Homo sapiens: one gene and its partner. The protein of the gene in region 1 purifies or fractionates together with the protein of each later gene. This does not show direct contact. Each region holds a gene or a part of one and is shown in the gene's direction. Other genes may lie near its edges. The genes, in order: RALGDS and KDR.

Region 1 (3,810 bases):
GGGAGCATCTCCCTTCAGCCTCCCGCGTCTTCCCACTGTTTGATCTCTTGATCACACTGTGTGCAGGTCTTCGGTTTAATCCCCAGGGCTCATGAGCACTTTGACACTGAAGACCCCAAGGCAAAGGGCCTGTCCCTGTGTGGGTGTGTGTCCCTGCATGCATGTGTACAGACTGTGGTCTTCCAGGAGAGCTTCCTGGGTGACTCTGAAGGGGCAGCCCCCAGGACCCTCAGGTTCCCCTCTTGCTCTACTCGGGAGGGTCCCCCAGAAGAGGGGGACCAGGCTGGCTGGTCCTGGGTCTTTGTTCCTTCTCCAGGCGGGGGATGCTCAGGCATGCTGGCCTGTTTCCCGGGAGGCTCAGGAATGGCCCTGGGAGATATCAAGCTGCTCGTTGCCAGAGCTGGGGTCTGATTCTTAACCTGGAAATTGGGCATTTCCAGGACCTGTCTGCGTTGCCAATGAGAAAAGAGTGGGGAGATTTATCACTGGCCCTCTGCAGGCAGGCTCTGAACGAGCCAGTGGAGCGGTTTCAGGAAGCTGCACCCAGGCAGTCAAGGACTGGTTCCCAAGAGCTGCTGGTTGGCCGCCCAGATGGCTCCCATGGCGTGGTGCCACCATGCTGTGGCCACCCAGTCCCAGGGTTGGACTTCCAGCCTTGCAGGCCCAGAATCACTGTGTTCCCAGATATACAGCAACAGCAGAGCAGTGTTCCCCATTTGATTGTTAAGGGGCAGACACTGATGCATGCAGCCTCATGCAGGACAAGCTGAGCTTTGAGCAGACCCAATTCTCCCAGTTCCGCACACCTTGGCTGCCCACGGGCGGGGGAGGCAGTGGGATGGCAGCCCAACAGTGGCTTGGCGGGCGGGGCAGGACACCTGCGTTGGAGGGTTTTGGCGTTTTCCTCCATGGGGAAGCTTGCATGCTTTGGCAGCCTCCCCTGTAGTCATTCCTGGAGACTTTTGTCCATCTCAACCGAGGGGCAGGGAGCCTGGGCTCTGGAGAGAAGAGAGCTATGCTGGGATGCCAGCTCAGCCCCCTAGCAGATGTAGACGTGCTCCTGAGCCTCAGTTTCCTCATCTGTAAAATGGACATGATGCCAGCTCTCCTGTTAGGGTTCTGGTGAGGACCCTCGAGTTAGACAAGAGACCTGAGGAGCAGCCTGCACAGCACTTGGCACAGTGGACAGGTAGCAGCTGCCACAATGAGGTTTTCTGATTAGGTGCCAGGGGAGCGGCCTGACCCTTCCAAGTGCCCTGGGCTCCTCGGGTGCGTCACCTGGCACCTTCAGCATGGCACTTCCCTGGCCTGGTGTCTTGTAGGCCTTTTGCCCAGGGCACGTCCACAAACCTCTCGGAGATGCAGGTGCTAGAAAGCTGGCCCTGCCACCCTCCCCTGCGAATTTGCTGTGTGACCTGAGGAAATCCTTCCTGTCTCTGGCCCCTCCTCCACATCTGTGCCACAAGGGGCTGGACTCTGCTCCAAGCCTGAGACCATGGCAGAGGCAGCGCCAGGCCTGGGTGGGTCCCAACAGGCCAGGGTTCAAATCCCTGTTCTGGCTGCCACGTCCTGGCTCCTGACCTGGGCGAGTTCCTCTCAGGCTGTTTCCTTGTCCATCAGGCAGGGCGTTAGGAGGATTAAACGTGATGGGTGTCCAAAGGGCCTTGCACCCAGGAAGTGCCCGCATGTGCTGGGCACTGTAGCTGGTTAAAGTTGGGGCTGCCCTGCACCCCCTTGGGACCAGCCCACCTTCCTCCTCAGCTGCCACCAGCCACGCCCCTCCCGGGCCTGGCCCTGTGTTCACCTGACTGTCAGGGGCTGGGCGTGGACAGGGACCCTGGATGCCCAAGGCTTGCGGCTGACCTGGAGGTCTGGTTCTCCCTCCTCCTGCTTGAGGCACGATTTTCCCATCAGTGAGTAGCAGGGCACAGGCCGGCAGGGAGGGTTTCTGGAGAGATGGGCCGGCCTTTGCGGGGCTCAGCACTGGTTGGTTCCCAGCCTCCACTTTCTGAGGCCAGGGAGCATCCTGGTGGGCAGGCACCGCGTGTCGTCCCGGTCTGAGGCCGCCTCTGTGGGCTGCCATGCCCAGGATCAGGAGTGTGGCCCACCCACACCCCGGGCTGGCCTCCTGTCATCTTGATGCTTTGTCTGTGCGCTGGGGATCAGGGTTGGGTCCACCCACCTGGAGCTGGAGGGCAGGCCCGAGGGCAGGAGGGTCACGGACACGGACACGAGGCCCTTGCGTTCCACCTCCCTTGATGGGGCTCATGGTCCGAGCTCATGACTTGAGAAGTCCTGGGCTCTCACCTCTGGCTCAGCCAGCACACGCCCCACCGGCTCCTGTCCTCGGGCATGGGTCCCCACCTCTGTAGGACGGAGAAGGGCACAGCAGCGTGGGCCCCGCACTGTCGCAGGAGCCTGGGCTCTGTAGAGAGCGAGCAGCCTTCTGTGATGCGTTTTACGTTTGGCTTCTGTATTGGAGCGGAAAGCTGAAGTCAGAAAGCTGCTCCCACCCACTGGGTTTCAGGGTGACTCAGCCTCTCTTTACAGTGTCCCTCGGCTAGGTCCCTGAGCCTTAGGCAGGCCTCAGACAAGTTTCCCTCAGGTTTTTACAGCCCAGCATCCGTCGCCGGCCCCAGGGGGATATGATGTCAGGTGTTGTCCGGTACCACGCCATCAGGTCCCAGTGCCGGTCACCGAGCTGTGTGCATTCTCTCTTGACCCCCACTGTTGCCTGTGACAGGTAGTGCTGCCCTCCCCAGATGACACACCAAGGCCGAGGGCCAGGGGCTGGGCAGAGCCAGCGAGAGACAGGGAGCTGCTGTCTGGTGGGCCAGAACTGTGAGGTGCTGGCAGGGGGGTGGCAAGCACCCCGGGGTGACCTCTGGTGACTGGGACCTGAGCAGCAGCTCAGAGGGGCTTGGGAGGTCCCCCAGGACAATCTCACGCACACGGAGGCTCTGCCGTGAGCCTTTCCACACACAGGCCCGGGGAGGACCAGGGGCGGAGCAGGCCGAGGTGCAGGCTAGAGCCCTCTCCTCACTCCGCTTCAGCCCTCAGCCAGGTCTCCTTGGGAGGGGCCGGTGAGTTCCTGGAGCCATCCATGGGGCAGGGGGCCACTAGCTACGGTTTCCAAGGAAAGGCGTCTGAGTCCGGAGCTGCACCAGAAGGCTGATGCTGGGAGGAGGTGCCGTTGGCCTGAGCGGGGAGATGGCAGGGCTGGGGCAGGCCCCGTAGGGTTCCTCAAGACCCTCACTATTCTACCCAGAGGGAGTCTGGGTTTGGCCTGTGGCTTCCTCCTTCTGTCAGCCAGGGACACGGCATCCTGCTGGCCTGTCACTCTGAGAAGGCTGATCAGGTGACACACTCACCAGACACCACCAGGCCCTGTTTCCCATCCTCATCTTCAGGGCTCTGGGCTGTGTCCCTGGAGACATTGGGGTGTGGGGGCCCCTGCTCACCGGGGACCCCATGCCACCCTCACTGCACTGACCCAAATGTTAGAAGGCCAGACAGTGTGTTTACAGGCACAGCTGCCGACTGGGTCCCAGAGCCCAGGGACATCAGCATGCCTGCTAGGGGTGGGACAGGAGTGTCCCTTGAGGACACAGCCAAGCACGTGGTGTTCTTTTCTCCTCCTAGCAGTCAGCTCATAGCGGCTGCCTGGGCACCTGCCCTCAGGGGAAAGCGTTTTCTCTGCATCAGCTGTTCACTAGGCCGTTCCTGCTCCTCCCGCTCTGAGCTCCCAGCCCGGCCAGAGTGCCCTGGGGCCCAGGCGCTGCCCAGATGGGCTGTCTGCTAACAGAGTGA
Region 2 (3,810 bases), on another chromosome or scaffold:
GATCATCATAAAGGTCTTCATCCTTGTCTTCACGTTGAGTAGGCTGAGGAAAAGGGGGAAGAGGAGGGGGTGGTTTTGCTGTCTCAGGGGTGGCAGAGGTGGAAGAAAATCTGCTTATAAGTGGACTCATGTAGTTCAAGTTTGTGTTATTTAAGGGTCAACTGTAATTGAACTGGAATTAAATTGAACTGGCCTTGAGAAAATCACCTTAATTTTTTGTTTATTCTCTTTCATTTACATAAATGTCTGAGTTTACATGGTAATTTGTGTGGCATCCTACTTATAAGCCTTGGAAAGGATTTTGGAGTTTATATTATGAGAATGCATCAATACAGTGAAATTTTAAAAATACCTTAGATAATGCTATTTATTAGAGTTGTAATCATAAAAGTGGCAACAACTATAACAAGTATGATTTAGTGAGCACTTACTTTATTAGCTCATCTCATCTTTGAAGCTGAGATTGGAACTCAAGTTCCTGACTACAAAGCTATGCTCTTGACCTCTAGGTCACGTGGCATCCCTAGCAAGAACTTGAAAATTTCTTCTGAATGAACAAAATAGAAATCACTAAGTGTCCTAAATTTATTTAAATTATTTCACTTGCCAAGATGCACTTGTCAAAATACACAGAGAGAGATGTGCTCTGGCTTATGTTTTTATAGAATTACTTTTGTTTTCCAGAATACTTCAGGGAAATAGGGGCAGAAATAAGGAGGTCAGTTGGGAGGCTAATTGCAGTTATCCAAGTGAGAGTTGAGGGGTGGCTTAGACAAGGGTAGTTGAGGTGGAGGTAGTGAGAGGTGATCTGCTTCTGGATATATTTTGAAGGTAGAGTCAACAGGGTCCGCTGATCAATTCATTGGTTGTGGAGTATAAGAGAAAAAGAGTGGAAGATGACTCGAGCGTTAGCATGAGCAACTGAGTAAATGATGGTGTTATTTACTGAGATGGCAAAGATCGAGAAGGCAGTGAGATTTAGGGAAACAGTGTTAGATATGTTTATCTGGAGATGCCTGTTAAACATCCAAGTGGAGATATTTAACATATCAACCCGGAACCCAGAGGAGTCAGGGCAGAAGATAACACATTTAGGAGGTACGTGAATGATACTTTAAACCTGAGGCTAGAGGAAGGTGTAAATAAAGAGGAGGTCTGAGGACTGAGTCCTGGGGCCTCATGGTGGAAGAGGTGTGTGGAGGCTGTCATGGGAGCAGAGGAGAAGGAGCACCCAAGCATCCCTGGGGGACTTAGAGAAAGCTGCACAGAGGAGCAAGTGTTTGAGTTGAGACTTGAGCAATCACTAGGCTTGTGGGAGTGCACTAGCGGGGAGAGAAAAGCAAATGCAAACACAGGAGGTGTGGGAGAAACACGGGAGGTGTGGGAGAAGCTGAAAAGTGACCCACTGAAAGATAGTACAGGAAATCTTGGAACTGCAGCTACTCAGACCCTCAAGGTCTTTGACGTTTCACTTGAAATGAAAAACTAAATCAAATGACCATTTACAGTAAGTTGACCTTTTTTTTTTTTTATTTTCTTCCAGAAAAACCTTTTGTTGCTTTTGGAAGTGGCATGGAATCTCTGGTGGAAGCCACGGTGGGGGAGCGTGTCAGAATCCCTGCGAAGTACCTTGGTTACCCACCCCCAGAAATAAAATGGTAACTACTGGAAATAAATGCAAAGCATCATTTCGTGTGAGAGCAAATCCTTTGACTATACTAATTCCTGAGAATTTTTTTTCATAGGTATAAAAATGGAATACCCCTTGAGTCCAATCACACAATTAAAGCGGGGCATGTACTGACGATTATGGAAGTGAGTGAAAGAGACACAGGAAATTACACTGTCATCCTTACCAATCCCATTTCAAAGGAGAAGCAGAGCCATGTGGTCTCTCTGGTTGTGTATGGTGAGTCCATTCAATTTTCCTCTCTGCCCAAGATTTATTATGATACATTGTCTTCCAAATCAGCCAAACCACCGTTCCTCTGCCTCCTGCTGCTTCACTCATATCATGGCTGGGCCTGCGTACAAAAGTCATCTGGCGTGGTGAAGCTGAAGTGAAACGTAGGACCATGTGCTCTGGCCATGTTTGTTTAAGAGGCCGTGTAAATGAGCTTTGTGGTGGACAAATGCAAGATTAAAGTAGTGATACCCTCGATAGCTAAATGTTGTGAAATAAGAATGCCCACAGGGACAGTTGTCAAGCTAAGTTATACTACCATGTTCCCCTCTCATGGAATTGCCCACCTGGTACACAGATGTGTAAGACCCTTCTCCTTAGATTTTGTGCAAAGCTTCTAGTTTGATGTTGTAGTTGATGTATCAGAGATGTGCAGGCACGTTCCAACTCTGAAGGCTTTTGAAGTTGACACTGTTGGCTTGGTTGGGAGCTTTTCTTTTTTCCTTTTTGACAGGAGTTCAGGATCTGATTTTGAGTCTGTAAAGGAAAGATAGTAAGTTTTTGATGTAAAGATAATTTGAACTTTGTTTTCTGAAACTGAAAGGTACAAATAAGTGTTTGGAATGGAGTGGGGAGAAGGGTGCCATGGTCAAGTGAGTGTGAGAGGTGCTAAGGTGATGTGTAGATGTGTAACAGGTTTCTTTATTGCAGGACTTCGCAGAACCTTTTATATGCTAATGTATATTGGTATTCTCCAGGAGGAGAGACATAGAGTATTCAAGGTTTAACAAACCTATTTGACCAGAGCACCTTTTTTCCCCTGAGCAAATTCATTAATCTCTCACTCCAAACAGTTTGAGAAATGCTTCTCTGTTGTAATTCTTTGTTCCCCCTTCTGGTACGGCATATTAAAACTTCAGGATATTTTCCCATGACATTAAGGTGCTTCCCTACGTGTCCTGATACTCTTCTGTAGGCCGCTGAACTTGGCTTTATTATTTTTTTTCAGGGAATATTTTAAAGATAGGCTGGGTGCCGTGGTTTGCATCTGTAATCCCAGCACTTTGGGAGGCCGAGGCGGATGGATCACCTGAGGTCAGGAGTTCGAGACCAGCCTGGCCAACATGATGAAAACCCGTCTCTACTAAAAATATAAAAATTAGCCAGGCATGGTGGTGGGCACCTGTAATCCCAGCTACTTGGGAGGCTGAGGCAGGAGAATCACTTGAACCCAGGAGGTGGAGGTTGCAGATAGCCGAGATCGCACCATTGTACTCCAGCCTGGTGACAAGAGCAAAACTCCGTCTCAAAAAAAAAGTTAACAGGTTCCAAAAAGGTTGTTTAGAAGCAGCATAGGTGTAGGGGACTGGGGAGAGGAGAAACTGGAAAGTGTATAAGTAGGATGGGAGGAGGAAATGAACAGGAAATAAAAACAAAACACGGACAGCAAATAGCCCATTTCATCAGTTCATGAAGCCACTAAATATTTTATTCACTTTAGCAAATTCTCTGCTATATGAAATAAACATAAAAAAGAAGTCAAGTCTTCAAAGCATAATCTGAGGCTTTAGGTTGACAGTAATAAGGAAATAGTTTTGACTTTGGAGTCAAAAAAGAAAGAAAGGAAAAAGGGAGAGAAGAAAGAAGGAAGTGAGAGAAGGGAGAAGGAAGAAAGGGGAAGAGGGAAAGGGAGTGGAGAGGGAGGGAGGGAGGAAGAGGGAGAGAGAATGAAAAACTCAGATGATGGTGGCAGGAATGCATTCTCTAAAGATTTACACCTTCCTTTAACATGAGGTGGTTTACGTGTTTGGGTTCAGAAGTCAGAGTGTCTAGGTTTGTTCCAGGTTTTGCCGTTCGTTAACTGAGTGACCTTGGGCGAGTCATTTTTTTCTGTTTCATTTTTTTCT

What was found.
Region 2: the proteins of RALGDS (region 1) and KDR purify together in Homo sapiens (pull-down; one study listed by IntAct). This does not show direct contact.

What each region holds. Positions count from the first base shown.
Region 1 is NC_000009.12:133,114,556-133,118,365, reverse strand, and holds part of RALGDS (ral guanine nucleotide dissociation stimulator), read left to right. Parts: intron 1-3,810. UniProt on the Homo sapiens protein: Functions as a guanine nucleotide exchange factor (GEF) activating either RalA or RalB GTPases and plays an important role in intracellular transport. Interacts and acts as an effector molecule for R-Ras, H-Ras, K-Ras, and Rap.
Region 2 is NC_000004.12:55,108,502-55,112,311, reverse strand, and holds part of KDR (vascular endothelial growth factor receptor 2 precursor), read left to right. Parts: intron 1-1,543; coding exon 1,544-1,658; intron 1,659-1,745; coding exon 1,746-1,909; intron 1,910-3,810. UniProt on the Homo sapiens protein: Tyrosine-protein kinase that acts as a cell-surface receptor for VEGFA, VEGFC and VEGFD. Plays an essential role in the regulation of angiogenesis, vascular development, vascular permeability, and embryonic hematopoiesis.